Linked DNA regions of Homo sapiens. The protein of the gene in region 2 interacts with the protein of the main gene of each other region in a pairwise test. Each region holds a gene or a part of one and is shown on either strand. Other genes may lie near its edges. The genes, in order: SPRED1, RASSF1, MECP2 and DNM2.

What was found.
Region 1: the proteins of RASSF1 (region 2) and SPRED1 interact in binary tests that used the Homo sapiens proteins (3 or more experiments, as listed by UniProt).
Region 3: the proteins of RASSF1 (region 2) and MECP2 interact in binary tests that used the Homo sapiens proteins (3 or more experiments, as listed by UniProt).
Region 4: the proteins of RASSF1 (region 2) and DNM2 interact in binary tests that used the Homo sapiens proteins (3 or more experiments, as listed by UniProt).

What each region holds. Positions count from the first base shown.
Region 1 is NC_000015.10:38,353,122-38,357,976, reverse strand, and holds the end of SPRED1 (sprouty-related, EVH1 domain-containing protein 1), read right to left. Parts: 3' UTR 728-4,855; downstream 1-727. UniProt on the Homo sapiens protein: Tyrosine kinase substrate that inhibits growth-factor-mediated activation of MAP kinase. Negatively regulates hematopoiesis of bone marrow.
Region 2 is NC_000003.12:50,337,672-50,345,554, forward strand, and holds the start of RASSF1 (ras association domain-containing protein 1), read right to left. Parts: upstream 3,166-7,883; 5' UTR 3,135-3,165; coding exon 2,885-3,134; intron 1,536-2,884; exon of another isoform or gene 1,423-1,535; intron 630-1,422; exon of another isoform or gene 353-629; coding exon of another isoform or gene 341-352; coding exon 234-340; exon of another isoform or gene 1-233. Other genes in the region: ZMYND10 (zinc finger MYND domain-containing protein 10), read right to left, coding at 3,739-3,814, 3,903-4,028, 4,139-4,260, 4,344-4,469, 4,726-4,898, 5,247-5,347, 5,447-5,535, 5,636-5,773 and 4 more. UniProt on the Homo sapiens protein: Potential tumor suppressor. Required for death receptor-dependent apoptosis. Mediates activation of STK3/MST2 and STK4/MST1 during Fas-induced apoptosis by preventing their dephosphorylation.
Region 3 is NC_000023.11:154,023,785-154,031,725, forward strand, and holds part of MECP2 (methyl-CpG-binding protein 2), read right to left. Parts: intron 7,670-7,941; exon of another isoform or gene 7,667-7,669; coding exon 6,583-7,666; 3' UTR 1-6,582. UniProt on the Homo sapiens protein: Chromosomal protein that binds to methylated DNA. It can bind specifically to a single methyl-CpG pair. It is not influenced by sequences flanking the methyl-CpGs.
Region 4 is NC_000019.10:10,720,606-10,728,546, forward strand, and holds part of DNM2 (dynamin-2), read left to right. Parts: intron 1-7,941. UniProt on the Homo sapiens protein: Catalyzes the hydrolysis of GTP and utilizes this energy to mediate vesicle scission at plasma membrane during endocytosis and filament remodeling at many actin structures during organization of the actin cytoskeleton.

The DNA.
Region 1 (4,855 bases), on a different chromosome or scaffold from region 2:
CTTTGGTTCCCAAAAGAGGCTCTGTGGAATAACTGACAGATGAATCGCTCATCATTTGGGGGGGGGGGGGCGGGGGGAGCGGGAGGTCGGAAGAGTACTGTATACACGGCTCATTTTAGAGCATTGTTTCCTACTGCCTCAAGGAGAAGTATTGCTGCTTTGGTGAAAATGAATCCCTCCAATAAAATACCACCAATTGAGCAAAATGAACAATTCCACAAACTGAACTATGTATGTTTTTAGTGCTTCCCATTGGATCAACTCACAACTGGCATATCTTGAAGCATTATCACAATTATCCTCCAATTTAAAAAATTCCCATGCCATACTGTGGATCACGTACCACAACTTAGTGAGATAGGGGGCCCAGAAATGGACAAGGGAGAGTAGAAATTAAGAAATTATTCCTTTATAAAACAAAATTACTCCAGCTTAAAATAATAAATAGAATTTCATTTTAACAGAATGATTATTTTATGAAGTGTATCTGTGACTCCTGTAACAGAAAGCTGAAACTGCATCAGGAAGAAAAGCCTATGCTTTGGAGTCAATTTGTTTCAGACCTGGTGCCTCTGTGTTATCTGGTATTTTGACCTTTTGATGCCCAAATCTCTTCCTTAGAAAAATAAGGAAGATAATACTTACAAGGTTACTTGAGGATTAAAAGTAATCATGTATAAAATACATTATGTAACAAAAATAAAGACAAAAGAAACACTATTTCAACTGTGATTTTGTTAAGACTTTTATTATGAATGTATTTTTTGAACCATCATTTCAGATCTCACTAAAACTGCAAATCTTAGAGCAGTTCAATTTAAAGAGTGACTACAGCTTTCATACCATTGATGTCGATGTCTTTTTCTTTAAGGAGCACTATGTGCATGACACTTATATTGATAGCCAAGCTAGAACCCTAGTTTCAATTTCCTTGTTATAAAAGCTATTCTACTTACTTGTGGGTATTAACTTGATGTGAAGAATGTAAAGCAAATTCTGAAAAACCTGTAAATAAGCACATGAGACTACATTTCATAATTAATGGTAAAGATACAGTTACTCCTTGATTTTTCAAATAAACTATAATATAGTAATCCAACTTATTCTAGTGTTGAGATACACTATAATTTTTTATTACTGTCCTAATAACCTTTCCTTTAGATTATTCGTTATTTTTGGTTATATGGCGAGTTAAGTAAAACGATGAAACTGACTTGAATATAAAAAAATCAGTAGTCCTGGGTTAAACAATTGCCACTTAAGGTCATTAGCTTAGCTGCAACATGTTACCAAACCAATAAATATAACATTATTAGCTTAGAGACTTAAAAAAAAATCTGAATACAATTAAGGATGAATAAATATGTTATTAAGATGAACTATATGTGAACTTTCAGTTTAAAAGTATACTTTTAAAGAACAGAGCTAATTATCAAAAGCTTCCATTTTTACTTTCTCCTCCAGTAATTATCTCTTATGTGATAATTTGATAAGCTCTAGGAGAATAAGAAAAAGTCCTTTTATAATTCATGACAGGTTTAATCAGGTAATTCCAGGAGGGAAAAAAACCATTAAAACAAATTCTTATGATAATCATCTGCTATGTCCAATTACACGGGTATGAAGTAACAGAAATGGTTACAAACTTATAATGTATTATTTACATTATATACTCAAAACTATCAAGCTAGTTAACTATATCTGAGGAGACACATTATGACATGAGTTAAACAGTTTTTCATTGTTCATTAGAAAGAATGCAGTCAAGCTTTTAATGGAAATAATATACAAGTGAGGCACTTTTGAGGTCAGAAATAGAAAGCAAACGACACTACACACTGGAAATGTTCACAAAAATCTATGTGTATTTTTAATACAAAGACTTTTCAACTAGTTTATTCTTGAAAAAATTTCAAAACAACTGATGCAATTTAAGAAGCTTTCAGGAATAATGGCTAACATTTATCAGTGTACCAAAGCATATGAATCTTTTATAACCACCTGGCTGCTAGGCAAACAGTACCTAATACCTTAAAGCCTTTTTTTTTCTTTTGGTTTATATAAATCACCTCCGGTTGTGTTTCTCTCTTAAAGAAATTCATTCTTCATGTTTGTCTCATTGCAAAACACCTCATGGTGCTATTATGATTTATAGACTTTTTTAGTGCAACAATAATGCCAGTTTCTAGTGCTTCCTCTTACACTTTGAAGTGTGAACATGGAAGTCAAATCAAGAATGAGCATAATAATTAGTAAAGAATCCTTGCTTTTCAGGTAACTAAAGTTTTCTAAGTTTTATGTGGAAAAAATGTTACACTTGCTTAATGCACCTTTGGGCTACAATTAAAAACCCAATTTAACACATACTTCCAAGTGTAATCACAAAATCGAATGTAAATTTCAACACAAGAAATATCCTTAAGATTCTTTACATTGACCATTTAGAGGAAAGCACATTTCCTGTACTCTGGAGACTCACGTGCATATTAAGAAACATTTCCGTGCCATTTAATTAAGGGGGCAGGGGAGAGGAAAAAGAAAAGAAAAAGCAAGACTTACCCAAGATATCAGATGGCACTATACACATGAATTGAAAGTGCATTTACATTACTTCAAAAGCTCATTTTAGGCACTGCTGAATAACCAATGAAAATAGGTAGTTTCAAGTTTTTCCCTTTAGATTTTAACCCCACCCCATCATCATTTCAGAAACATACACACGGCTGGGCGCAGTAGCTCATGCCTGTAATCCCAGCACTTTGGGAGGCCGAGGTGGGTGGATCACCTAAGGTCAGGAGTTCAAGACCAGCCTGGCCAACATGGTGAAACCCCATCTCTACTAAAATACCAAAACTTAGCTGGGCATGGTGGTGGGTGCCTGTAATCCCAGCTACTTGGGAGGCTGAGGCAGGAGAATCGCTTGAACCCAGGAGGCGGAGGTTGCAGTGAGCTGAGATCGCACCATTGCACTCCAGCCTGGGCAACAAGAGTGAAACTCCGTCTCAAATAAAAGAGAGAAAAACGTACACACACACTCTCTGAAGCTGTCATGATAAAATACAGGTGTGATTATGTTTTTTCATGTTTTGATTATTATTTTTAAAAATTCTCCCTGACTGGCGGAAGGAGGAAAAAAATACCATTTTGGTAATGGCTTTTGAGAGTTAAAGCAACTGGTTCTATAAATGCCTCAGTACATCCATTAAGTTTGATTGCCAGTCCCAAATATCAACAAATATTTTAAAACAGGATATGTAAGAAAAAAGTGCTTAAAATCTTTCAGCAAGCCAACAAGACACATTAGGTAAATAACCATTTTACAATTCCTTTGAGACAGTTCTTATTCCTGGTTTCCCTGGTAGAGGTGGTCACCACATAAATAGCCCTTTAATGGTAGTAGTGATGAACCCTGTCAGATCCCTATTGCCATCTCATGTCTCTGGCCTGGAAATCATCCAGTAGGTGGTGCTGAAGCTCCACACGACATACTTCTTCAGAAATCAAATGATGTCCCTTTTGAAGCCAAGAGAAATATTTAAGAATTATCAATTCTGAACAAGTTCATCAGACCAGTCTTGCTTGTCATGCCGTCTAGATGATTCCATTTTCAATACTATTACTCAAGCAGTTGTCTTGAGCCATCTGCTTATATCAGATAAAAACAAAGAAAAGTTTTAGAGGAAAAGCCAATTGGCAGTGCCGAATCTGTACAGAGAATGAGAAAATGTTCCTGAAGGTGCCTATACACATGTTTAAGAATCAGTGATTTAAACTACCCATTTGCTTTCACAAAGGAATTCTCATTTACTCAAAAGAAAATTTCCATATAGGGATTCAGAGAACATTATATCATCAGTTAGTCTTGTAGACTGATTAAGAAACTGGGTATGTTAACTATAAAGATCCAAGGTAAAATAAAAACCATTTCATCACCATAGTTTTTAATGAAGAAACTTGTTTAAAATTGTAAAGGAAAAAATGGGAATGGGACGGCAAAATCTTAGCAGCAAAGTGGTTAAACAAATTGAAAATATTAATGCACAAACATTAAAATATTAAAGCATATATGTTGCATATAAAATACAGTACAGAACCAGGAGTTGCACTATACTGATTAGTGCTTAACAGAAGAAATGATTAAATTTGTTCCTCCCAGAAGTATATACACAGTTCATTTCCACAGCATTTTCCTATATAGCCAGCAAGTTATTTTCTTCAGTTATTCACACCTTGATCAAACCTGAATTATAAACTTAGCACTTACAAATATGAAAATTCATTCACAAGGAAAAACAGTATTTCCATTTCACCAATAAAAATTTTGAAAGTTAACAGTCTATTCTAGGAAACCAAGTTTAGCTGAAAACTTCAGGGATGAAGATCATCTGTTGTAGCAGCATTCAAATATATAAACAGTAAAAATAAGACTTAAAACTGCTGCCTACAGTGTCATGTTTTGGATTTAGTTCATCCAATTGATTTTTAGTACAAAACTAGAAATACCCTCTTCTTCATAACATCTATAGTTATCAATATATTTTCTTCTTTTCAATGTGAAATAATACTTCAAGATGATCTATATACACAATGTTGTCAGTTCAAGCTGTCATATAAATATAAATGCTTTCTTAAAAAAAGTATTTTACAGACAGATAGTGTTATATACATTGTTCAGTTTGATCTGGGGCAAAAGAAAAAAGCTAACACAAGCTTAAGTGTGATATATAAAAAGAATGATACATAAATGACGTTTAAAAACCTGCATAGAAAATGAGCTTCAAATAGTAGTGTGATTTTAATTTTTATCACCTCTGAAACTTCAAGCCATTAAAAAAAAGGCACACTTCTCAACTTT
Region 2 (7,883 bases):
CGCGGAGCCTGGGTCAGCCTGGGCCCGGGTCCGCTTGCAGCGGGTGGAGTACTTGCGGAGCCGGCAATCCAGGCTCCCCTCCCAGCCCCCGCGCAGAATTAGCCTCTCTGTGCCGCCGGGAAATCGGCAATTAGAACGCTCCTTGCGCGCGGCACCCAGGCAGCCCTCGAGAATGCCTGCACTGTGGCCTGCCCATCCTCGCCCTTCCCATACGCCCTCGGCCCCGCGCTCACCACGTTCGTGTCCCGCTCCACCGCGGGTTCCCAGCCCAGGTCCCGGGGCCCGCAACAGTCCAGGCAGACGAGCGCGCGGCAGCGGTAGTGGCAGGTGAACTTGCAATCTGCAGAGAGGCCTGGCGGTGAGGCGGAGGAGCTCCAGGTCGGGGAAATGTCCCGGAGATTGAAGGGAAGCCCCAGGGAGAGGGCCGCTGCTCGCCAGGCTCCGCAGGCCCGACCTATCTCAGTGGGTTACCTCACACTGCTACGCGGACTCTAATGTTGGCCACCTGGGCGTCTGGAAACCGGCCGGAAGGCCACAGGCAGAGAGGCCTGCTCAACAGTTGGATCTCTATCGCCTAGCACAGAACTTCCCCTTTCCTCATTGGCAATTAAAAAAACAACAACAAAAAACTGCGTCTTGCTTTTGTCACCCAGGCTGGAGTGCAATGGCGCGATTTCGGCTCACCGCAACCTCCGCCTCCTGGGTTCAAGCGATTCTTCTGCCTCAGCCTCCTGAGTACCTAGGATTACAGGCGCCCGCCACCATGCCCAGCTAATTTTTGTATTTTTAGTAGAGACGGGGTTTCACCATGTTAGCCAGGCTGGTCTCAAACTCCTGATCTCAGGTGATCCACCCGCCTCGGCCTTCCAAAGTGCTGGGACTACAGGCTTGAGCCACCGCACCCGGCCCTTCACTGGGAACGTATATGGAATACATCTGCCCATTTACTTGAAGGAAAAACTAAACACCTTTAACCTACGTCTGCCCTGTGGTTGTCACCTGTCTCTACTCCCCTCAGACCAAGACACTGGTCTCTATACACTCTAATCCTTCGCCTTCACTCTCCCCTCTACCCACTCCAGCCAGGCTTGCCTCTTCCTCCAGGAAACTGCCCGGGACAGGGTCCTCAGCGATCTGTGTACTACCAAATGGAATCCAGTGTTCCATTCTCCATTCTCACCCCCTCAGCATCATTTGAAGCTTGCTCCCTTTGACTCCCAGGGGCTACACTCTCCCAGTTTTCCTCCTACCCCCTGCAGCTCCTGCTCAGCTCCTTTGCAGATTCTGACTCAACTTCCATATCTCACGATGAAGTCTGGGCTCAGTCCTGATCACTGGCCTGGTCTGTCTACATTCATCTGCCCCAGATCCACGGCTGAAACACTGACCTAAACCCTCAGACTAGATCCTCCGTGCCAGTACCTTCACTAGGATGTCTAAAAGACGTTTCAAGTGAACATGGCCAAAATTTAATTCCCTTTTCTTCAGCCTCACTGCTACACTTGCCCAGCTTCCTCTTTGCAGCAAAAATGGCCACTAGGCTCCCAGTTACTGGAGACAAAAGCCCAAACTTATCTTTGATTTCTCCCTTGTCTCTACCTCTGATAAACATGCCCAAATCATCCTGCTTCTTATCTCCATGGCTACTTTATTTCTCTTTGAGAACGCTGCAATGTCCCAGCCTTGTTCTTTTTTTTTTTTTTTTTTTTTTTGAGACAGAGTCTCACTCTGTCGCCAAGGCTGGAGGGCAGTGGCACGATCTCGGCTCACTGCAACCTCCGCCTCCTGTGTTCAAGCAATTCTCCCACCTCAGCCTCCCGAGTAGCTGGGATTACAGGCACCCGCCACTACGCCTGGCTCATTTTTTTTTATTTTTTAGTAGACATGAGGTTTCACCATGTTGGCCAGGCTGGTCTTGAACTCCTGACCTCAGGTGATCCACCCGCCTCCGCCTTCCGAAGTGCTGGGATTACAGGCATGAGCCACCGCGCTCGGCCCCTTGTTCATTCTTTGCATTCTGTCACAACTTTGTGCTCCCCCCAGCTGAATTTGTGATGTCCTCTTGTACCGGATGAGAGGGTCTCCATGCACACACAGACCTGGGACACTATCCATCCACAAGTTCCTAAATAGGCCAGAGCAGTGATGCTCAACCCAGACTCCATGTTACAATAATTTGGGGAGTTTTTAAAATTTACTGATGCCTAGGGTCCACTCCCAGCAGTTGATTCAACAGGTCTGCGGTGGGATCCAGGCTAGCGGGGAGGACTGTAAAAGCACCCCTGGTGATTCCAGCTGGTGTCTACCCAGGGGAGAGCAACCTTTGCTTGCTGGCGATTCCCAGGGGTGCAGAAGGACTGCTGGGTGTGTGGCTGCGTGCATATTTTAGCATCTGATTCACTGGGTCAGAAAAGGGTGTTTGCTAAATAAAGACTCAACAAAACTCCTGCTTGCAGGGGGCCCACCAAAGGTTCTAAATTTTTCCAGGCTCCCTCCCATAGGTGGTAATTTCCCTTCACCCTAAAGGTTCTGGAGGGGGTCATGAGTGTTTGAGAAGAGGCAAGCCTGGGAAGATGGACTCCGAGGACAGTAGGCACAAACCCTTTCTCAAGAAGGGCCAAGGCATTTTAAAGATAAGAAACTTAAAATCAGCGTATTTTTACATATAAGCAGCCACCTCTGCTCATCTGTGGCCCAGATACGAGTGGAGTGCGACAAGGGATAAACCATTTTCGCGCACTCTTCAGCGATGGGGCGAAAGTAACGGACCTAGTCCTCGGGAGCTGTCCCCGCCGACCCCCTCTGCCGCGACTTGACCCGCGGCGACTGCGCTGCCCCTTGGCTGCCCCTTCCGCTCTCGTAGGCGCGCGGGGCCACTACTCACGCGCGCACTGCAGGCCTTTGCGCACGACGCCCCAGATGAAGTCGCCACAGAGGTCGCACCACGTGTGCGTGGCGGGCCCCGCGGGCTGGAAGCGGTGGCCACGGCCAGGGACCAGCTGCCGTGTGGGGTTGCACGCGGTGCCCCGCGCGATGCGCAGCGCGTTGGCACGCTCCAGCCGGGTGCGGCCCTTCCCAGCGCGCCCAGCGGGTGCCAGCTCCCGCAGCTCAATGAGCTCAGGCTCCCCCGACATGGCCCGGTTGGGCCCGTGCTTCGCTGGCTTTGGGCGCTAGCAAGCGCGGGCCGGGCGGGGCCACAGGGCGGGCCCCGACTTCAGCGCCTCCCCCAGGATCCAGACTGGGCGGCGGGAAGGAGCTGAGGAGAGCCGCGCAATGGAAACCTGGGTGCAGGGACTGTGGGGCCCGAAGGCGGGGCTGGGCGCGCTCTCGCAGAGCCCCCCCCGCCTTGCCCTTCCTTCCCTCCTTCGTCCCCTCCTCACACCCCACCCCGGACGGCCACAACGACGGCGACCGCAAAGCACCACGCGGAGATACCCGTGTTTCTGGAGGCCAGCTTTACTGTGCTAGAGGAAGAGGGTCCCCACATCCGGCCCTGGCCCTCCTGGTCCGGTTTGCTGAAGCAACACACTTGGCCTACCCACTGGGTGGGGCAGGAAGTCTCGAGCCTTCACTTGGGGTGAGGAGGAGGGAGATCGGTCAGCAGCTTTACCGCCCGCTCTGCTCTCCACTGCGGAGACTGGGGCTCCGGCAGAGGCTGGACCGTGATCTTGAGGTTCAGGGGTGCATTCTGGGTGGATTCCCTTGGCATGGGTGGTCGGCCCTCAGCAACTGCAGCCCTCATTTGGCTCTGTCACCCTGGGCTGCCAGGACACAAGTCTTTCCATGCTTTTCCCAGTGCTTGACTTGGCACTCCCTGCAGGCAGGTGGGTATTGAGGATGGCAATGCATGTGGGGGATGTGGGAGTAGGGCTTAGAGGTCCAAGGTTCTAGGATACCCTCACCTGCAGCAATACCACTCATTCTGGCATCGTGAGCAGCGCTTAGAAGCCTCTGCACTGCAGTAAGCACAGCGGGGCCGCTCTGGAGCCACTGCCTCTAGCACATCCAGCCTGTAGGTCTCAGCCCACCTGGGGGAAAGTCAGGAAGGTCTGACTGGCCCTGGAAGGTGGGGGCACCCCACCCACATCCATGCCTCCTGCATCCCCTCCACCCTCCCTGCCATTTCCACAGGCCTTACCTTCGCGCCTGCAGCCGCAGGTCCTGCTCTGAGGGGCTGAACACATGCTGGAGCTGGTGCTTGGCAATTGCCTGCCACTTGCCTCTGTTTTCTCGCTCCAGCCGCTCCCAGATTTCTGGGATCTAGGAGAGAGAAGTGGAGAGTGGCAGGAAGGTGCTGGTAAAGTGGGACAGTGGTCCTGAGCAGCTAACTTTCCAGTGCCTACCTGTTCCAACACCAGGTCCTTCTTAGGAGGCTGGGTTTCAGTTAGGGTCAGATGGGCCAGGAAACTCTGCAAGTGGGCCAGGTTGGGCAGCTGGTCCAGCAGTGTGTCTGTGAGGAAGGCCCGAAGCTGCAAGGGTGTCCAGTGGAGGCCAGTGTGATGCAGGTGCTGGCCAGGGGGCCAAGGAAAAGGAAGGGGCTGGGTTGGGCTGAGAATGCCTGTGGGGGCCCATGTCCCACTAGCTGGTGTGTCACCTGAGGCCCAAGGACTGAAAAGAGCACTGGGGTTGAGGTGGGTGGGCAAAGATAAACAGCAGGGACGCAGTCGGGGTAGGATGGGGAGGGCGGTACTGGGGCTGTGGGGGCTGGTGCGGAGGGAGTCTGACCTTGAGTAGCCGTCCCTTGGCAAAACTTGTGAGGCAGTAGCGCGCCTGAGCCTCAGGGCTTAGCAGCAGGTTGTACAGGGCGATCCACACTTGCCCGTCCAACTTGCTCAGCTTTTGCTGCTCTGAGGGGGCCACAGTATGCCAACGGCTGCCCTCGAACTGCTGCAGCTTGCCTGGGGAGAGGAACCAGCACACTGGGTGCAGACGTTGAATTCTCTTCAAGTGAGCCAGCTGTGGGGGCTGGGAGACTGACCACTGCCTGGGAATGGGAGAACCTGGGCTGCAGGACTTGCCCAGGCTATAGGGCTGCTGACCCCAGAGCAGGGTGAGCCTCAGTAGTGGACACATGGGCCTGGCCTGCTGCAGAGCTCAGGTCTAGGCCAACCTTGGCTGAGGCATCCTGGTATCCTCAGTGGGCTTGGGGACAGGGTTTGTCTTCGTGTGTGCAAGCTGCCCCCCTCTATCAAAAAGATACCCTGAAGCAGTAGCCTGGGGCTTAGGCTGGTGGGGGAGGACCCTACCTCCTTCCCGCCGGCTCCAGGGACTATGCTCCAGCAGTTCCACCAGGAGGCAGGGCAGGTTGTGTGTGCTAAGCATACGGCTCAAGGTGCTGAGAGAGAGGCTAGGGGCAGGGACGTTGTGAAGGAGGTGAGTAGAGGCAGGCTACAGGCCCGGTCTTCCAGCCCTCCACAGTAGGCCCAGGCCCAGTCGGACTGCTCACCTGTCCACACAGTCTGTGATGTAGCGTAGTACTGAGAGGGCCTTCAGTGCAATCTCAAATTCCATCAGCTCTGCCTGCTTCTGCAGCTCCTGGGAGGTCACACAGTGTTCACGCTGGGCCACCCTCACCTGCGCAGGCCTTGGGGAACCCAGACCTAGGCTTTCACAACCCTAGGTAACCTCAACCCACCTGCATGGGGTTGCTGTCCTGGGATCCCTCCCCCTCAGGGGGGCCACCACAGCCACTCTGGGCCACCAGCAGGGTCAGTTTGCGGTGGCAATAGTCTACCAAGTCCAAGACAGTGTCTTCTGCTGACTCACACACCTCCTGGGAAAAGGAGGAGGGAAACTTTCTGTGTCTGATGCCTTCCCCACACAGACACAATCTCCCTTCCTGCCAGGCCCTGACCCGGAACTGTGGCCCATGGGCAGAGATAGTCCCTCACCTTGTGGAAGAACACTGTCTCCAAGAGGTTGATGATGGAGGCCTCGTGGTGCACCTGTCAGATAAAGAGAAGGACAGGGCCTGAGGAAGGGATAGGGGCTACCAGCTCTCCTCCCCGGTCCAGAGCCCTCTGAAGGAGTGAGAAGAGGTATGAACCAGGGGCCCAGCTCACCACCATGTAGATGGGGAAGGTGTTCTGGGGCTTGAAGTCCTCCACCCTGCAGAACACAGGGAACACCTTCTGCTTCCACATCTCCACTGCGATCAGCTCCTCCACCAGTGTTGGGACCTTTGAAGGGTAGGGTAAAGGACAGGGATGAGATGGGCCTACCTTTGCCTGGCAACCCTCCCATCCCCGGCTCAGCTCAACCCTGATATCCCCAAACACTGCTGGGCCCCTAAACTATTCCAGACCCATGAGTATCCTTCCTGACTTCTCTCTTGCACCTTGGACCTTCATTACCAGCTGCTCCCAACACCTCTGTGGATGTCCCTCATGCTTATGTGACTGGCTCCTGCCCAGTTCCCAGACTGCCTTGCCCTGCCTGCACCTGCACCCTTATCCTCTGCCCGCCCATTCAGGCATCCCTTTCAAGCCAGCCCTTCTCCTCATGCCCTCCCTCTAGTCCCTGTCTGTGGTCCTCCAAAGCTCTTGTGTGCCTTGGCCTCACTCCTACTCAGGACCCTTCACAGTGCCCTGTTCCTATCCTATCCCCTAGTATGAGTTCCATCTTTCTTTTGCAAAGGACCTTTCTTTTTTTTTTTTTTTTTTTTGAGACGGAGTTTCACTCTTGTCACCCAGGCTGGAGTGCAGTGGCATGATCTTGGCTCTCTGTAACCTCTGCCTCCCAGGTTCAAGCGATTCTCCTGCCTCAGCCTCCCGAGTAGCTGGGATTACAGGTGTGCACCACCATGCTCTGCAAATTTTTGTATTTTTAGTAGAGGTGGGGTTTCACCATGTTGGCCAGGCTGGCCTTGAACTCCTGACCTCAGATGATCCACCCGTCTTGGCCTCCCAAAATGCTGGGATAACAGGCATGAGCTACCATGCCCGGCTTTTTTTTTTTTTTTTTTGGTCAATTGATATCTCAGGTCATCTGCTGGTGACACTCCCTGGTCCATGTTCCAGCCAGGCATCTCCCTGGTTTCTAACTTCCCCCTTTCATGTTGGGAAGGCTGCTTCCTTCCATGCCGAAGTTCCACCTCCAGTTAGGTTATCTCCCCTCCCTCCCGCCCTCCCCAACCCCTCCCCACCCCTTCCCCACCACCAGCCTTACAGTCAATTCACAGATGCCTTTAGCATTTGGGCCTTCCCCTTGAAGCCTAAGCTGTTCTAGGACCTACAGCTTTCTCCCTAATCAACTCATGCCCTGCACCCAGCCTGGTGTGCCAGAGTCCTGTCCAATAGGGATACAAAATGAAACATGTAACACATTCCTCTTTGTCCTTCAGGGAGAACAGGTGTACCAGGCCAGAGGGGAAGGGCACACAGGGGACTCCGGAGGGGTAGAGTAGGTGAGGTATGGGGGAAGGCAGGAACCCTGCCTGTGACCTCGGGGTACCTTCCCATGGGTGACCAGCAGCTCCTGAATGGGCTCGCCCTGGCTGACTGTGGCATCGAGGATGGCTTGCATGTTCAGCTTCTCCAGGTTCTCATGCTGCTGGTTCCACCTGCCTCAGAGGGTAAGTGCATGTGCGTCCACGTGTGTGCATTAGGAGTGGGGATGGGGGCTGGATCCTACTGAAGCCTAACCTGATCCTGAGGGGACACAGGGGGCTCAGGAGCAGTAATACTCCTGTCTCGGAACGCTCTGCTCCCCCATTTGGGAGCCCCTCCACACTGGGCAGCCCCTCCCCCGAGTCAGGCCCCAGCTCCCCGACTCAAGGACAATGACTCCGGGACTCCGCCTGACCCGGGTGCCTCACCCTTCGGAGCCCATCTCGCGTAGCGGGAAGCTGCGCAGACCCCGCACCAGCACTTCAGCTTCCCCGG
Region 3 (7,941 bases), on a different chromosome or scaffold from region 2:
GCGGCAACGGCCTCCTCGCCTCCTCTGCCCCTATCCCAGGCTGGGTGGGAAAGAGCATCATGACCCACTGCTAACACTGAACACACGCCGGAGCTGGCCCCGGATGTGGGCCCAGAGGCTGCCCCAGCCCTGGTCCTCCGAAGGGCTCACGGGTAGCCCGGCCACTGAAAGGGCCTATGGCTGTTTTTCTTTTGGATTCAGGCCTCAGAAGAAGCAATGACAGCAGGGAGGGAAGCTTTTGGCCCTGGTGATTATAATGCTCTCTGCTTTGGAAGAACAAGTTTCTGGATTTTTTTGGTGTTTCTAATTATTAAAAAAAGATGATCAAAAAGAACTGTTACAGCTAAACTCTCTAGCAGATATTGCTCATTAAGAATTACAAAAGCAAATGCAATTACTCGTAGGATGGGGGAGAAGAAAGGGACATTTCTGGAGTCTTCACTACTCCTGGAGGGGACCCCTTGGACTGACGCACATGATTCTGGGGTCCCTGGCGTTCTACCTGGTGCAGCTCACAGGTTCCGAGACAGGCCAGGCCTCCCGTCTCCGCTCCAGCCCCCAGGCTCGACAGAGTGGGAAGGATGAAACACACTCGGACCCTACTGGCAGGGAGGCCTGCGAGGCTGACTCCACATGGGCTCACCCTGACCAGGTCACGGGAAGGGGACTGGGGGAGTCAGGCCACCCCAGTGGACTCCAGCTCCCAGAGGTGGAAGGCGACCAGGCTGTGCCGACTACGTTCCGGACTTCAGCAGGTCAAGGGAGCGCTCCTGCACCCAGAACCTTGGGACCTCTTTCACAAGCACGGGAGAAACAAGAGTGCAAAACCTGGGTGCTGCCTGGAGCCTCCTTCACCTGGCACAGGAAAGCCCTTGAAAGAAGCGAGGAAAAGACCACGAATCTGCTTGGACAGAAGAAGTGACCAGCAGACAGATTTGTCGTTTTTTTTTCTTTTTTTTCTTTTTTTATTTTCCCTTGTCCTATGCTATGGTTATCAGAAATATTGTAATTAAGCAACAGGTATAATTTTAACAGGTCTTTTTTTGTGTGTGTGGAGCCACAAGCAAAATGAGTTTATAATTGTGCAATATACAGATATATATATAAAAATTCAACTGCTTTGTGTGTCTAGTCGGTGCGTTAAATAAAAGGGACAGAAAAACTAAAAGCAAAACTAAAAAGCAAAACAAAAGCCCAGGATAGAGGAGACAAAGCAGGCCTATGCGCACAGTCTATGTGTTACTGGATATAATCAGGGTCACCAGGAAGAACAGCTTTGCCACTTGACACACAAACACTGCGGGGAGAGGGGCTATCAGTGGGCAGGAGCCAAACCTCTTGGCCTTTTCACCTCATCTGCTCTCACTGCTGAGCAGGACCTGATTAAAGGTAGGACAGAATGGGGGTTTGGGGGCAAAGAGATTTCCAAATTCCCCAAATGTTCTTGAATTCAAAGGTAGGATTTCCTCCAGGGTCTGGGCTCTGCCTGTGCACAAGTCGGAGCCCGGAGCGGGAGCTGGGGGTTGTGCTCCCTCCTTGCACTGCCCTCACACCTGCTTCCTTCTGCCTCCTGACAGGGCAGGCAGGGGGCCTTGGGGAGGCAGTGAGAGGCCAGCTCAGAAGGCTCAGCTGATCCGAGGCGAGCAGAGCAGGAGTGGGCAAGGCAGGCTGCCCCTCAGGCAGAAGTGCCTTCCTAGTTCCCTGGGTGTTTTCCTGACACGTCAGCGCTGGGGCAGGCTCTGTCAAGATGAGAAGAGTGGGAAGGAGGGTGGTGCTGGGCCTTCCAGGTCACTGGTGAACGCTCCACCTTCCATACCACTCCCAAAAGACAGGTTCAGAAGCCATGTCCTCAGGTCGGCTACCTCCAGATTCCCCTTGCCTGTAATGCTCACCAGGCATCTCAGGCCAAGTGCTAAGTATTTTTAGATCAGCACTGTTGTAAAAGCTTGCTCGTATTCATTCAAAAACATCGAAATGTAATTTTCTGCCAAATGTTTTCTAGGTTTTCCTTCTAAATTGTTGAGAACTGACTTCAGTGTTCAGCTTTTCCCCTCTAATATGTAATTTTAGACCCTGGGGGAGGCAGTATCCTAACGATTTATAACAAGTAGACTATGCCTTTTCTAAAGATTGATACAATATCTAAAAGAGAAAGACACCAAAATGGAGAGAATCAACAAATCCCGTCAGAGCAGAGAGAAGAGTAGGAAGACCCGGAGGGAGCAGGGCTCTGCCCCCCCACCGGGCAGGTCCTCCAGACCCACTCCATGGTAGGAACTCTAGAAACAGCTGACTCCCTGAAGTCTAGGACACAGGTCCTAGAATCTGCAGGTGTGAACTTGAAACAGGAATCCATTTGGGGCAATGACACAGGCTAAAAATGTATATGCCCAAAGATCTTCTTAAAGAACTGGTACCTGTAACCTCCCCTGGCCCAGTCAGCCCAGAGAGCCTGACTGGAATGCTCTGGAAAAGGAGCTGTGGTTAGACGGGGGACACAGAGTTCTGGCTGTCAGGCTCCACTTGGGCTAAACCAATTCCAGATGGTCCCGCGCAGGGGACTCCGCTCGTATCCCTCTGCTCCCTCCTGGGCTTGAGCCGCTTACTAAGTGATTTAAAATTCAGAGATTCTGTCAGCTAAAGAAACTCCTTTCTCCACCCAACTTGGCAGTTTGTGTCTGGTTATTACCCTCTTTCGCCATCACTGTCACAGCAATGAAAAGCTGGGCAGAGAAGCAGGTGACAATTTGGGGCTGCTCCCTGTCCCAGGTGCACTGTTCATGCTTCGGGCCTGGAATGATGCCACCCAACAGAAGATTGTCTGCACCCGCACTGGCGCTCACGAGTAGCAGCTTCCGCCATCCAGCGAGCTGAGAAGCTGGGGCCGTTGGCTAGTTTGGCACTGATGGATTGGGGGATGTGGCGTTTCTGGGTGTCCCCTGTGTCTTTTGATATGGGAATACAGCATCAACAGAAGGGAGCTGTGCTAGCGCCTGGCTGTGACCAAGTATCTCCAGCTCACTGAGCTGTCAAGACCGGCAATCCCACTGGCTATGACAAGCCCACCAGCAGGCAGGGCCGGGAGGGGTAGACCTGGGGGGAGCTCGACGACATACAGTATTGTCAGGAGAGGAGGTAGTAACTAACAACTGGAACAAGGGTGGGGGAGACTGTGGATGTGGCCTTAATGACCTAGCCCCATGGGTACTGGAAAGCTGTCGGTCAATTCTGCTGTTCACAAATTCACTGAAAGAGGCCCCCATCTTCATAATGTTCAAGTACAGACAAAATTGAAATTGAGGTCACACCCCAAAACTGGGCCGGACACAGCTGGTGAGAATCCTGCAGCTTAAGGCTTTCCCTCCAACCTCCTGTCAACCTGACCCCAAGGCAGGGGCAGCATGAGAGCTGCAGGGCCCCTGCCTGCCAGGGCGATAAACCGCCAAGGCTGCCTGCTGAAAGGCGACTGACTCGTGATGCCTTTGGGAAAGACGAGGGAATGAGGAAGAAAGGGGGAAATAGAGAGAAAACCCTAAGGAGCCTCAGGCCCCACTGGCAGCTCTGGAATAAACTGGAAGGGAAAGAGGCTGGGCAACTGCCTCTTTGAGGGAGCTGCAGGTGGGGCCCGAATGAAATAAAGTGACGCTTGAAATGCTGTGTTCCCAACCACGACTGCCCCATCGGCCCTGAATGAACTGTCATGGGTGACAGGGGGGCCTGGTGGGCCACGCACTCCTCTTACCAGGACCAGATGACGCCCAGGTGACGGGGAAGCAGCTCTGGACAATGATTCCAGAAGCCACATTACATTTGACTAAGTATAATACATAAAAACCCAACTGACCAAAATAAACATCTTCTCAGTGACAACCTGGTCGGATGCTGCGCTCTCGTGGATAAGTGTCCTTTGGTAGTGCCAGGAGTTCGAGGCCACTATGGGGGCAGGAGCCTTCTGTCCTTGGAGGAAGAGTTCTGGAGGACTCACCCTCTCTTCTGACCCCCCTTCCCTTCCTGGGGAAGAGTCAGAAGTGAAGCTGGGGGGGTCATCAGCAGAGCAGGTGGAAGGGATCAGGGATCAGGGATTGGGCTGATGGGAGTTTGGTTGCAGGACTTGCTTTTACAGCATAAGGAAATGGACACATATATGCTAGAAAGTCCAACTATGAGACTCTACAAACAGAACGGGGCAAACTCCCTCACTTCTAACCATTCCAGAAGAGACAAACACGGTTTTTTCTTAAGCTACTGATTGGAACTGTCAACTATGGTTCCTGATCACTAAAGACTGGCAAGGAAGTGCTAGACAGTTTCTATGATGTTTCACTCCTTCATGATTACACCATAGTAAGGAAGCCAGGGACAATAACTGAAATACACAAGACAACACACACTTGACAGTTCATGGCAGCAGCTCACATGGGACATGCCTGTGGGTGTTTCTGGAAGCATAAGACTGCTGTCTCATTTGCTACTTTGATAAGGTACTTCTCAGTTGGACAGATTTAGATATAAGAGACATCTCTGTAAACACAGAAAAGGATATACCAATATGATGAAGATATGCAGCTAGATAAGGACTTCCTGAACAGAGGTTAAAAAGATGGGATCCCACATGAAAACTGATCAATTAAAAACCCACAGCAAGCCCATGCCTCTAAGCCCCTACACCACAGCTATGGACCAGACAGACAGTGAAATGTGTGGTGTTCTGGCCCCCTGTCTGCATCGAGCAAAAGCAAAACATTGCCATTCAAGAAGAACTCCGAGGGAAAAGGGGGAGCAGAGGAAGGGCTGGGGACCCAGGTACTGGTCCCAGCTCGGGTCTTGGGAGTTCTGCATTGGTACCGCTACTGCCCTGCTGCACTACGCTAGACTCTGGACTTCTGAGTGAGGTCAAGGTCGGCTGGCATGGAGCCCCTGTTGGGCCACTCGATGACTGGCAGGCCACAGGAGGCCTCTGTGCTTTCCTCAACTACCAAATCGGGCCCAGCTCCTCCAGTCCACTTCTCTAGAGTAGAAGGGTGAAAAGGCTCGTTGTTCAGGGTGGGAAATGCCTTTTGCTTTTTCTTACCAGGGAAGAGGGGGCTACCTAGGAGAGCAAGACCTTGCTGCTCTCTTGCTCTTCACAGACAGGCCAGGTCGGACTCAGCAGAGCCCAAGGCCTCCTCAGGGCTCAAAACAGGGTGGGGCTGGTACTGGCAGCAGGAGGACAAAGGGCAGGCAGAGTTCTGGGGACTGGAGCCGACAAGTGTGGTTGGGCACCGCGGCTGCCTGGAAGAGAAGGGATGAACTAGGAAGGAGGAGGATGGAGGAAGGGAAAGAAGTGAAAGGATGAAATGAACAAAAGGCAGAAATGGAAGGGGAGAAGAGAAACCAATCAGGAAGTCCTTATAAAATTGCAGCAAACACTTAGAGTTTCGGAGCTTCGTGGGAACCCTATGTGCTGAGCCCACTTTAAAACAAGCGCAGGTATATATACAAATCCAGGTAGTTCTCAACACTGTCACATCTGGTGGCTTGAGGGACTAAATGTCACCAATTCAAGCCAGTTTGCTCTCAGAGCATCTGTTTGTTTTGAAGTGGGAACATGAAGACTCAATAGTGCAAATAATTCTAAGCTGTCCCTAAAGGAGAATTGGAAAGTAACTGGAAGAACATTTTCTTCTCCTCCCCCTTTGCCCCCTCCCCTGTCCACTAAGTCACAGACTGCTCTGAGTGATTAGGAATCCCTCTCACCCCGCTGTGCTCTGCCCGGCCTGACCCCAGGCCAGCCTGCCTGCACCTTGTCCTACTGCCTCCATGGCCTCTAGCGCCACCCGTTGGAGGACGTCCCTTGAGAATGGACCATGCCACCTCACCCTGGGCCATCCTCTCCTGTGGTTCAGGCCAGTCTACACCCAGTAGTTCAAGGGACTCCCCCCTCCTAGCCATGCCAGAGCTGGAGCAGACAGGTGCCACTTTCCTGTCCTGTGAAGCGTCCTTGCCAGTTTTGGATTGGGGCTGGTGTGGGGCCAGACTTGAGCCACCACGGGTGGGATCGCACAGGCCATAGCCACTGGTCATATCCATCTTCTCTAAAGAATCCAACTGTCTCTCCTGCCTCACACCTCCCTGTCCCAACGTGGTTGGGAGTGGGGGAGGTGGGGGGAGCTGGGGGAGCTGTAGACGGGGCACTGATGGCACCGAAAACGGGAGTGTCCTCTCAACTGCTCTGTCGCTCTGTCTCTAACGACCACATGGGGGAAAGGTTTGGGCGGGAGGGGAGGTGCCTGGTCAACAGCTTGTCTGGTCAGTAGTATCTGCAGCAAGCCTTGTTGAAGGAGCCTAGTTTAGAAAAGTGCAAAGCTACTTCTGGCCCTGGTTAGGTCTTCAACCTGACTGTGCTTGTCGGTAAGAAAAACATCCCCAATGCTCCAACTACTCCCACCCTGAAGCCACGAAACTCTAAGTTTACTGAAAGAAAAAAAAATATTTTTTATTTCAGTTAATCGGGAAGCTTTGTCAGAGCCCTACCCATAAGGAGAAGAGACAACAGCTGCCTTTATTCTTGTTGGTTTGCTTTGCAATCCGCTCCGTGTAAAGTCAGCTAACTCTCTCGGTCACGGGCGTCCGGCTGTCCACAGGCTCCTCTCTGTTTGGCCTTGGCATGGAGGATGAAACAATGTCTTTGCGCTCTCCCTCCCCTCGGTGTTTGTACTTTTCTGCGGCCGTGGCGGCGGTGGCAACCGCGGGCTGAGTCTTAGCTGGCTCCTTGGGGCAGCCGTCGCTCTCCAGTGAGCCTCCTCTGGGCATCTTCTCCTCTTTGCAGACGCTGCTGCTCAAGTCCTGGGGCTCAGGGGGGCTGGTGGGGTCCTCGGAGCTCTCGGGCTCAGGTGGAGGTGGGGGCAGGGGTGGGAGCAGTGGCACGGGGGCCTTTGGGGACTCTGAGTGGTGGTGATGGTGGTGGTGCTCCTTCTTGGGGGGTGAGGAGGCGCTGCTGCTGCGCCCCTTGGGGCTGCTCTCCTTGCTTTTCCGCCCAGGGCTCTTACAGGTCTTCAGTCCTTTCCCGCTCTTCTCACCGAGGGTGGACACCAGCAGGGGCTTCACCACTTCCTTGACCTCGATGCTGACCGTCTCCCGGGTCTTGCGCTTCTTGATGGGGAGTACGGTCTCCTGCACAGATCGGATAGAAGACTCCTTCACGGCTTTCTTTTTGGCCTCGGCGGCAGCGGCTGCCACCACACTCCCCGGCTTTCGGCCCCGTTTCTTGGGAATGGCCTGAGGGTCGGCCTCAGCTTTTCGCTTCCTGCCGGGGCGTTTGATCACCATGACCTGGGTGGATGTGGTGGCCCCACCCCCCTCAGCCTTGCCCCCTGGCGAAGTTTGAAAAGGCATCTTGACAAGGAGCTTCCCAGGACTTTTCTCCAGGACCCTTTTCACCTGCACACCCTCTGACGTGGCCGCCTTGGGTCTCGTGGTGCCGCTCCCTTTGGGGCGTCCCCGGCCTCTGCCAGTTCCTGGAGCTTTGGGAGATTTGGGCTTCTTAGGTGGTTTCTGCTCTCGCCGGGAGGGGCTCCCTCTCCCAGTTACCGTGAAGTCAAAATCATTAGGGTCCAGGGATGTGTCGCCTACCTTTTCGAAGTACGCAATCAACTCCACTTTAGAGCGAAAGGCTTTTCCCTGGGGACTGTGGGGACAAACAGAAAGACACAAGGAACAATTAGAGGCTCTCCATAGCAATGTCAGAGATAGGGCAGAGCGGATGGTGGTGACAACGCTCTGACAAACGTTACTATTGAACGAGAGTCACACTGCCTGGCTGCCCCTGAGGACCTGTCACCAAAGCCACTCACTCGTCTGCCTGCCGCTGACCCCCCCAGGCCTCTCCAAAGTTCAGCAACCAAAGAGTCAGGCCTGGTACAGAAGGGTTGTCAGGCTGAGGCCCATTCTGCTGGTTGGTGC
Region 4 (7,941 bases), on a different chromosome or scaffold from region 2:
GTAGTCCCAGCAACTCAGGAGGCTGGCCCTGGGAGGACTGCTTGAGCCCAGGATGTCCAGACTGCAGTGAGCCGTGATTGCACCATTACCCTCCAGCCTGGGTGACAGAACCAGATCCGGTTTCAAAAAAAGAAAAGAAAAAGTGCTTACTTACCTAACGCACTGCCTGGCACATAGTAGGTCTACATGGATGGGGCTATTGTTGTTTATCTGGCTGGTTCCTTTGCTATCAGGGACAAAAGCTAACCAGAATGAAAGTGCTTTCACGTTACACACTTAAGCCTTATGAGGGAGGCATTGCTATAATCCCCATTTTACAGAGCAGGAAACTGAGGCTCAGATAGCTGAGCAGAACACTCTCACTGGAGGCTGTAAAGTGAGGAGTTAGGTGTTCTGGGTTGGGAACCTGGGTCTCTCTCCCATCCTTACCTCTCCTCAGTCCCTCTACCCCTTGCCTTTCTCTCCTGTCTACCATGGTGTCTGGCAGCTGCCGGCCAGTATGGAGCTGGTTCCTGTGGCGACCTCCTAGAATCCTGCAATGCAGGAGTTGCTCATTATATATATATTTTTACACCGAGTCTCACTCTGTTCCCCAGGCTGGAGTGCAGTGGTGTTATCTCAGCTTACTGCAACCTCCACCTCCCATGTTCAAGCGATTCTCATACCTCAGCCTCCCGAGTAGCTGGGATTACAGGCGCGCGTTACCACACCCGGCTAATTTTTGTATTTTTAGCAGAGATGGGGTTTCACCATGTTGGCCAGGCTGGTCTTGAACTCCTGACCTCAGGTGATCCGCCCACCTCGGCCACCCAAAATGCTGGCATTAAAGGTGTGAACCACCATGGCTGGCCTCGTTAAGAGTATTAATTCAGTACCTGAAAGCCAAAGTTGTAAAAAGGCCTCTCTTTGGGTATGAGGGGCTCAAACAAGGCTTACTTTTTTTTGGGGGGGTGTAAGAGATAAGGTCTCTCTTTGTTGCCGAGGTTGGAGTGGAGGGGTGCAGTCCTAGCTCATTGCAGCCTCGAACTCCAGGGCTCAAGCAATCCTCCTGCCTCTGCCTCTAAAAGCACTAGGATTACAGGTGTGAGCCATTGCGCCGAGCCTGGATTTTCTAAGGATGTGGTCCGAGTGGGAACAGCCCAGTTAGTTCAGCCCTATAGCTGGAAGTCCAGATCACTGGCTCTGGGGGCCAAGGCCTGCCTGCTGGGTCTTTTGTTTTACCTGCGTAGCTTTTGTTTTTAATAAGACTTTCCAGTGTTAGATTTCCAGTCAATATCCGGATTTCTTGTGGCTCTAAGACACTCAGATCTATAGAGTTCTGAGTTGTCATGCAAAGGCTGTGGGCCTAAGGCCTGGTTCCACCATGTCTGGCTGTGCGACTCGGCCACGTGGATTTGGCGTTCTGGGCCTCAGATTCCTTTTCTGTAAGCTGAGGGTGGTAACTGGTACCCTGGGGCCTAGATGGGTGATTGGGTGATGCGTGCCGAGTGCATGTGTCTTATACGCATGGTGGCTGTTGTTGTAATCAGTTTCACCTGGCGTTGCTGAGCCTTTGTCCCTTGTGGCAGTAATGGCTTCGATTTCAGAAGCACCAGTCACTGTCCCATCAGACTAAGAGTGGCCACTCCAGCTGCCACAGTCCCCACTACTCCCTAGCACTCACCCAGGCCTAGATCATTTTGCTTGGAGCCTCCTGGCCCTGGAACCTTTGAGTTTGAGACCCCTGGCTTGTCTGCGGTGCACCAGCAGATAGAACTTTGGCCCTAAGGAGAAAGGAGGGCATCACTCCCTCTTGACCCTTGTCATTTAGCCTCAGGGGCTGGCCAGAAGGAAGGCCTTAGGCATTCCCGCACCCTAGCCTCCCGAGTAGCTGGGACTGCAGGCACCCGCCACCACGCCTGGCTAATTTTTGTATTTTTAGTAGAGACGAGGTTTCACCATGTTAGCCAGGATGGTCTCAATCTTCTGACCTTGTGATCCGTCCACCTCGGCCTCCCAAAGTGCTGGGATTACAGGCGTGAGCCACCGCGCCTGGCCTGAGATAGGGTCTTATACTGTCACCCAGGCTAGAGTGCAGTGGCACCATCTCTGCTCACTGCAGCCTTGACCTCCTGGGCTCAAGCGATTCTCCTACCTCTCAGCCTCCTAAGTAGCTGGGACTACAGGCACGTGCCACCACGCTTGGCTAATTTTTCATTTTTTGTAGATACAGGGCCTTGCTGTGTTGCCCAGGCTGGTCTCGACCTCCTCGCCTCAAATGATCCTCCTGCATCAGTCTCCCAACGTGCTGGCATTACAGGTGTGAGCCACTGCGCCCAGCCTCCTCTTCATTAAAATACAAGTTATAATAGCACTTCTTTCCCTTTCTTTTTTTTTTTTGAGACGGAGTCTGGCTCTGTTGCCCAGGCTGGAGTGCAGTGGTGCGATCTCGGCTCACTGCAATCTCGCCTCCTGAGTTCAAGTGATTCTCCTGTCTCAGCCTCCCGAGTAGCTGGGACTACAGTTGCGAGCCACCACACCTGGCTAATTTTTTTTTTTTTTTTTTTGAGACGGAGTTTCATTCTTGTTGCCCAGGCTGGAGTGCAATGGCACGATCTTGGCTCACCGCAACCTCCCCTCCTGGTTTCAAGCCATTCTCCTGCCTCAGCCTCCTGAGTAGCTGGGATTACAGGCATGCACCACCACGCCTGGCTAATTTTGTATTTTTAGTAGAGGCGGGGTTTTCCCGTGTTGGTCAGGCTGGTCTCGAACTCCCGACCTCAGGTGATCTGCCGGCCATGGCCTCCCAAAGTGCTGGGATTACAGGCGTGAGCCACCGTGCCCGGCTAATTTTTCTATTTTTAATAGAGATGGGGTTTCGCCATGTTGGCCAGGCTGGTTCCAAACTCCTGACCTCAAGTGATCTTCCTGCCTTGGCCTCCCAAGGTGCTGGGATTGCAGGTGTAAGCCACCGCGCCCAGCCCCGTCTTCTTTAAAATAGGAGTTATAATAGCACTTCTTTCCCTTTCTTGAATAGGGATTAAGTGAGACAGTTTGGAGTGCTTGGCATAGAAGAAGTGCTTAAAACATTAGGTGTTGTTCGTTCATTAAAAAATGTTTCCTGAGTACTTTTACTGTGTGCCTGGGGACATGGCCCTGAGCAAGTTACCAGAACTTCTGCTCTGGAGGAGCTGGCCTTTCAGCAGGAAGCAAATAAAGGAGAAGCATGGGCCACTTAGTGGCTCAGGCCCACAATCTCAGCTCTTTGGGATCCAGGCGGGAGGATCACTTGAGCCCAGAAGTTGGAGACCAGCCTGGGCAACATAGACCCCGTCTCTACAAAAAATAAAAACATTAGCTGGGCATGGTGACACCTGTAGTCCCAGCTACTCAGGAGGCTGAGGCCGGAGGATGGCTTGAGCCTGGGATTTCAAGGCTGCAGTGAGCTCTGATCACGCTACTGCCTTCCAGCCTGGGCGGAAGAACGAGACCTCGTCTCAAAAAAAAAAAAAAAGGCGATAAGTATGATGGAAAAAAGGATCAAGGAGCAGGATGAGGGAGAGATCACAGTTGGAGGGGGTACATTTTATTTTATTATATTATTATTCTTTGAGACGGAGTCTCACTCTGTCTTCCAGGCTGGAGTGCAGTCACGCGATCTCGGCTCACTGCAACCTCCGCCTCCCAGGTTCACGCCATTCTCTTGCCTCAGCCTCCCGAGTAGCTGGGATTACAGGCGCCTGCCACCAGGCCCGGCTAATTTTTTGTATTTTTAGTAGAGATGGAGTTTCACCATGTTAGCCAGGATGGTCTCGATCTCCTGACTTCGTGATCCGCCCGCCTCGGCCTCCCAAAGTGCTGGGATAACAGGCGTGAGCCACTGCGCCTGGCCAGAGGGGGTACATTTTAAATAGGGAAATTGGTGACATTTGAGCAGAGCCTTGAAGGAGGCGAGGAAGGAACCCCTGGAGACGGGAAGAGAATCCAGTGCAAAGGTCCTGATGTGGGAGGATGCCCGGAGGCCAGTTTAGCAGGCCAGTGGAGGGAGATCAGATCTGGGAGATATTAGGGTGGGACCAGGCCTCTAGGAACATTGTGGGCAGGGAGGCTGTCTGAGCAGAGGGAAGTAAAGCTGGTGGCGCTACTGCTGTCCCTCTGGACCTGGCCAAGCTGAGGGCTCTCTCCTTTGATTTCCAGCTTCAACTCAGTTTTCTCAGTAAGCAGACTCCACAGGCATGTAGGCGCCCCGTGCCATTTTTCTTTTAATAAGAAGCAGCTGTGCCGGGGATGCTGGCGTTTCCAGCTGCGTTTTTATTTGGCCTTTGGTGATGTGTCCCTCCAGGGATATGTGGATGAGCCGCGGGGGCACTGCCTGTGCCTCAGTGGGTGCTGCACCAGTGCACATCGGATGCCCGTTGGCTCCTGTCCCTGACAGATGGAGGGGCACGTGATGTGTTCCTTGGGCTGGTTTGTCCCTTTAACAGATCTTATTAGTTTAGAGCCACTTGGAAATGACATCTTCTGTTTCCAGTGACTTTCCTTTTGGGCAAAGACAAATTGCATCTTGAAAAGGCCATACATGGCCGGGCATGGTGACTCACACCTGTAATCCCAGCATTTTGGGAGGCCGAGGCAGGCAGATCACAAGGTTGGGAGTTTGAGACCAGCCTGGCCAACATAGTGAATCCCGATCTCTACTAAAAATACAAAAATTAGCCAGGTGTGGTGGCGCATGCCTTTAGTCCCAGCTATTTGGGAGGCTGAGGCAGGAGAATCACTTGAACCCAGGAGGAGGAACTTGCAGTAAGCGGAGATCACGCCATTGCACTCCAGCCTGGGGGACAGAGTGAGACTCCATCTCAAAAAAAAAAAAAAAAGGAAAAAAGGAAAGGCCATGCAAGGCTCGGTTAGGGTGGTCTGCAGTGCTGGGCCTGCTGGAATTGGTACAGTCCAGAGGGATCTGTGGGAATATGGAAGGCTTGGTTCTGCCACACACCAAAAAAGTGACCTCACTTCTCTGGGCCTCAGTTTCCTCATCTGGAAAATGGGAACATGGTGGTCTCTGCCTACTGGGAGTGGACTGAGAATCACGTAGCAAATTGTTGTGAAACAGGCAGCATTTGTGATCTCGTTGGTTGGCTTTTGTCTCCTTTTATCTGGGATCAGGACTCTGATGACAGGTGTACGTTTCTTTTCTCTTGCTCTGTCCCCCAGACTGGAGTACAGTGGCGTAATCATGGCTCACTGCAGCCTCCAACTCCTGGGTTCAGGTGGTCCTCTCACCTGAGTCTCCTGAGTAGCTGGGACTATAGGCATGAGCCACCACACCTGGCTAATTACAAAAAAATTTTTTTGGCAGGGAGCGATGGCTCACACTTGTATTCCCAGCACTTGGGGAGGCCGAGGCGGGCGGATCACGGGGTCAAGAGATTGAGACCATCCTGGCCAACATGGTGAAACCCTGTCTCTACTAAAAATCCAAAAATTAGGTGGGTGTGGTGGCTCTCACCTGTAGTCCCAGCTGCTCGGGAGGCTGAGGCAGGAGAATCGCTTGAACCTGGGAGGCGGAGGTTGCAGTGAGCCGAGATCGTGCCACTGCACTCCAGCCTGGGCGACAGAGCGAGACTCTGCCTCAAAAAAAAAAAATTTTTTTTTTTTTAGAGACAGGGTCTTACTTTGTTGCTCAGTTTGGTGTCAAACTCCTGGGCCCAAGCGATCCTCCTGCCTTGGCTTCCCAAAGTGGTGGAATTACAGGTGTGAGCCGCCGAACCCGGCCTTAGTTTCTTTTTCCTTAAAGAGAAGGAACTCATCATTACTCTGTTGATATAAATGGAGTGCCTATCAGTGCAGGCAATGTTCTTGCTCTGGGGATACAGCCAGGACCAGGACATGCAGGCACGCCCTGTTCCCCAGATCCTGAAATATCGACCAGAAGTTGTTCCTGGTTCCTTTCTAAGTGGGAATCATGGCTGCAAACAAGTAATTGGCCGTGAGAGTTATTTACACACATTTTGTGTACGGTGATGAGAAATGGGAGAAAAAATGCCCAGCATCGGATCACCAGAGGTCAGGAGTTCGAGACCAGCCTGGCCAACATGGTGAACCCTCATCTCTACTAAAAATACAAAAATTAGCCGGGCGTGGTGGCAGGCGCCTGTAATCCCAGCTATTCGGGAGGCTGAGGCGGAGAATCGCTTGAACCTGGGGGACGGAGGTTGCGGTAAGCCGAGATTGCGCCGCTGCACTCCAGCCTGGGCAACAGAGCGAGACTCTGTCTCAAAACAAACAAACAAACAAAAACCAATGATAGGGGATTTGGCCAGATAAGCGTGTCCAGACAACCGACTATCAACTCGCTACTCAGAGGGATCTAGAAGAATCTTTAATGACCCAGAAAGCTGCACAAGACCTGTTAGGTACCAGATGAAATGGGCTGTGGGATCCTGTCTTGTTTAAAACGATTGTATTTGCTCAGTGAAAAGACCGGAAAGACATACTCTGCCCTAACCCCACATGTGAATCGTCTCCCCATGTGATTCTTGGTTTGTTTTTGCTGGTTTGGGGATTAGGTTTATAATCAGGAAGACAGATTTCTCCAAAGCTGCGCTCTAGGCTGTCCAAGTGCTTTTTCAGAGTTACTTATTGACGGATAACAGCCCTTGATAGGTTCATAACATTGAAATCCCCTGGTAATAACCTGGATTGTTTCTGGATGAGGGCGGAAGATGGCCTTGGGGACAGTTGTAGATTTAGAGAGGAGGTTTTCTTTTCTTTTCTTTTTCTTTTTTTGTTTTTTTTTGAGACGGGATCTCACTCTGTTGCCTAGGCTGAAATGCAGTGGCGTGATCACAGCTCACAGCAACCTCAACTTCCTGGGCTCAAGGGATCTTCCCACTTCAGCCTCCCAATTAGCTGGGACCACAGGTGTGCGCCACCACCCCCAGCTAATTTTAAGAAATTTTTTGTAGAGGTGGGGTCTCATTATTTTTTGCCCAGGCTAGTCTCAAACCCCTGGGCTCAAGTGATTCTCCTGCCTCGGCTTCCCAAAGTGCTGGGATTACAGGCAAGAGCCACGGCACCCGGCCTAGGTTAGATTTAGAGTTTTCAGAGTTGGCTTAGGCGGTAGAGGCTGGCCTTTGAATGGAACCCTGTCTCGCTGTCGCTCTCAGCGTTTATATTTGGCTCAGAGCCACATCTGCCAAACTTCTGCCCGATTTGAATGAAAGTGCTGAAATTATAGGCCCCTCGGCTGCTGAAAAAAAGTGAGAACATCATGTAAACCGTAATTTACTGGGATTGCCAACTACAAGCTGTAATTAAGCCCTTATTGTGTTAAAGCTTTGGAAAAATCCAAGCCAATAATGAGATATTTATAGGGCATTAGCTACAATCTGAATAAAGGGAAAATGTGGCCCTGCGTCTGAAGCAGGACTGCAAAGAGAGGAAAGACGCCTGCTTCCGGGTGCGTTTTGGGTTTCTGTGAATATTGGTAACTAGGTCCCTGCTGGGTGGTGGGAAATTTTCCCCTGTGGCGTCACCCGTAGCTTGAACCGGGAGCTGGATGACTGTTTCAGTTTCATCTGCTGCTGGACATTTATGATGTTAAGAGCCAGTGTTTATGGAGAATCACCGTGTGCCACATGTGCAAGATCTGACCAGTGTCTTCTCTGCCCAGGGGTGGCAGCTGCTGCTCTTAGCATCCCTGCTTTATAGGTAGAGAAACTGAGGCCAGAGAGGGAGACTGGCCTGAAGTCACACAGGGAGGAGGACAGAGGAGTTGGAGCTTGAACTGGATGTGGGCCCTCTAGAGCCACACATATGGCGGCTTTGGGTGGGAAGGTGTGGGCCTGACTCTTGAGAGCAGGGCTGAATGGTGGGCACCATGGCGTTTGTATCTGAGGACTGGGCCAAGATTACAGAGGGAGTGAGCAACGCGTGGCTTTGGATATGCATCGAGGTTGT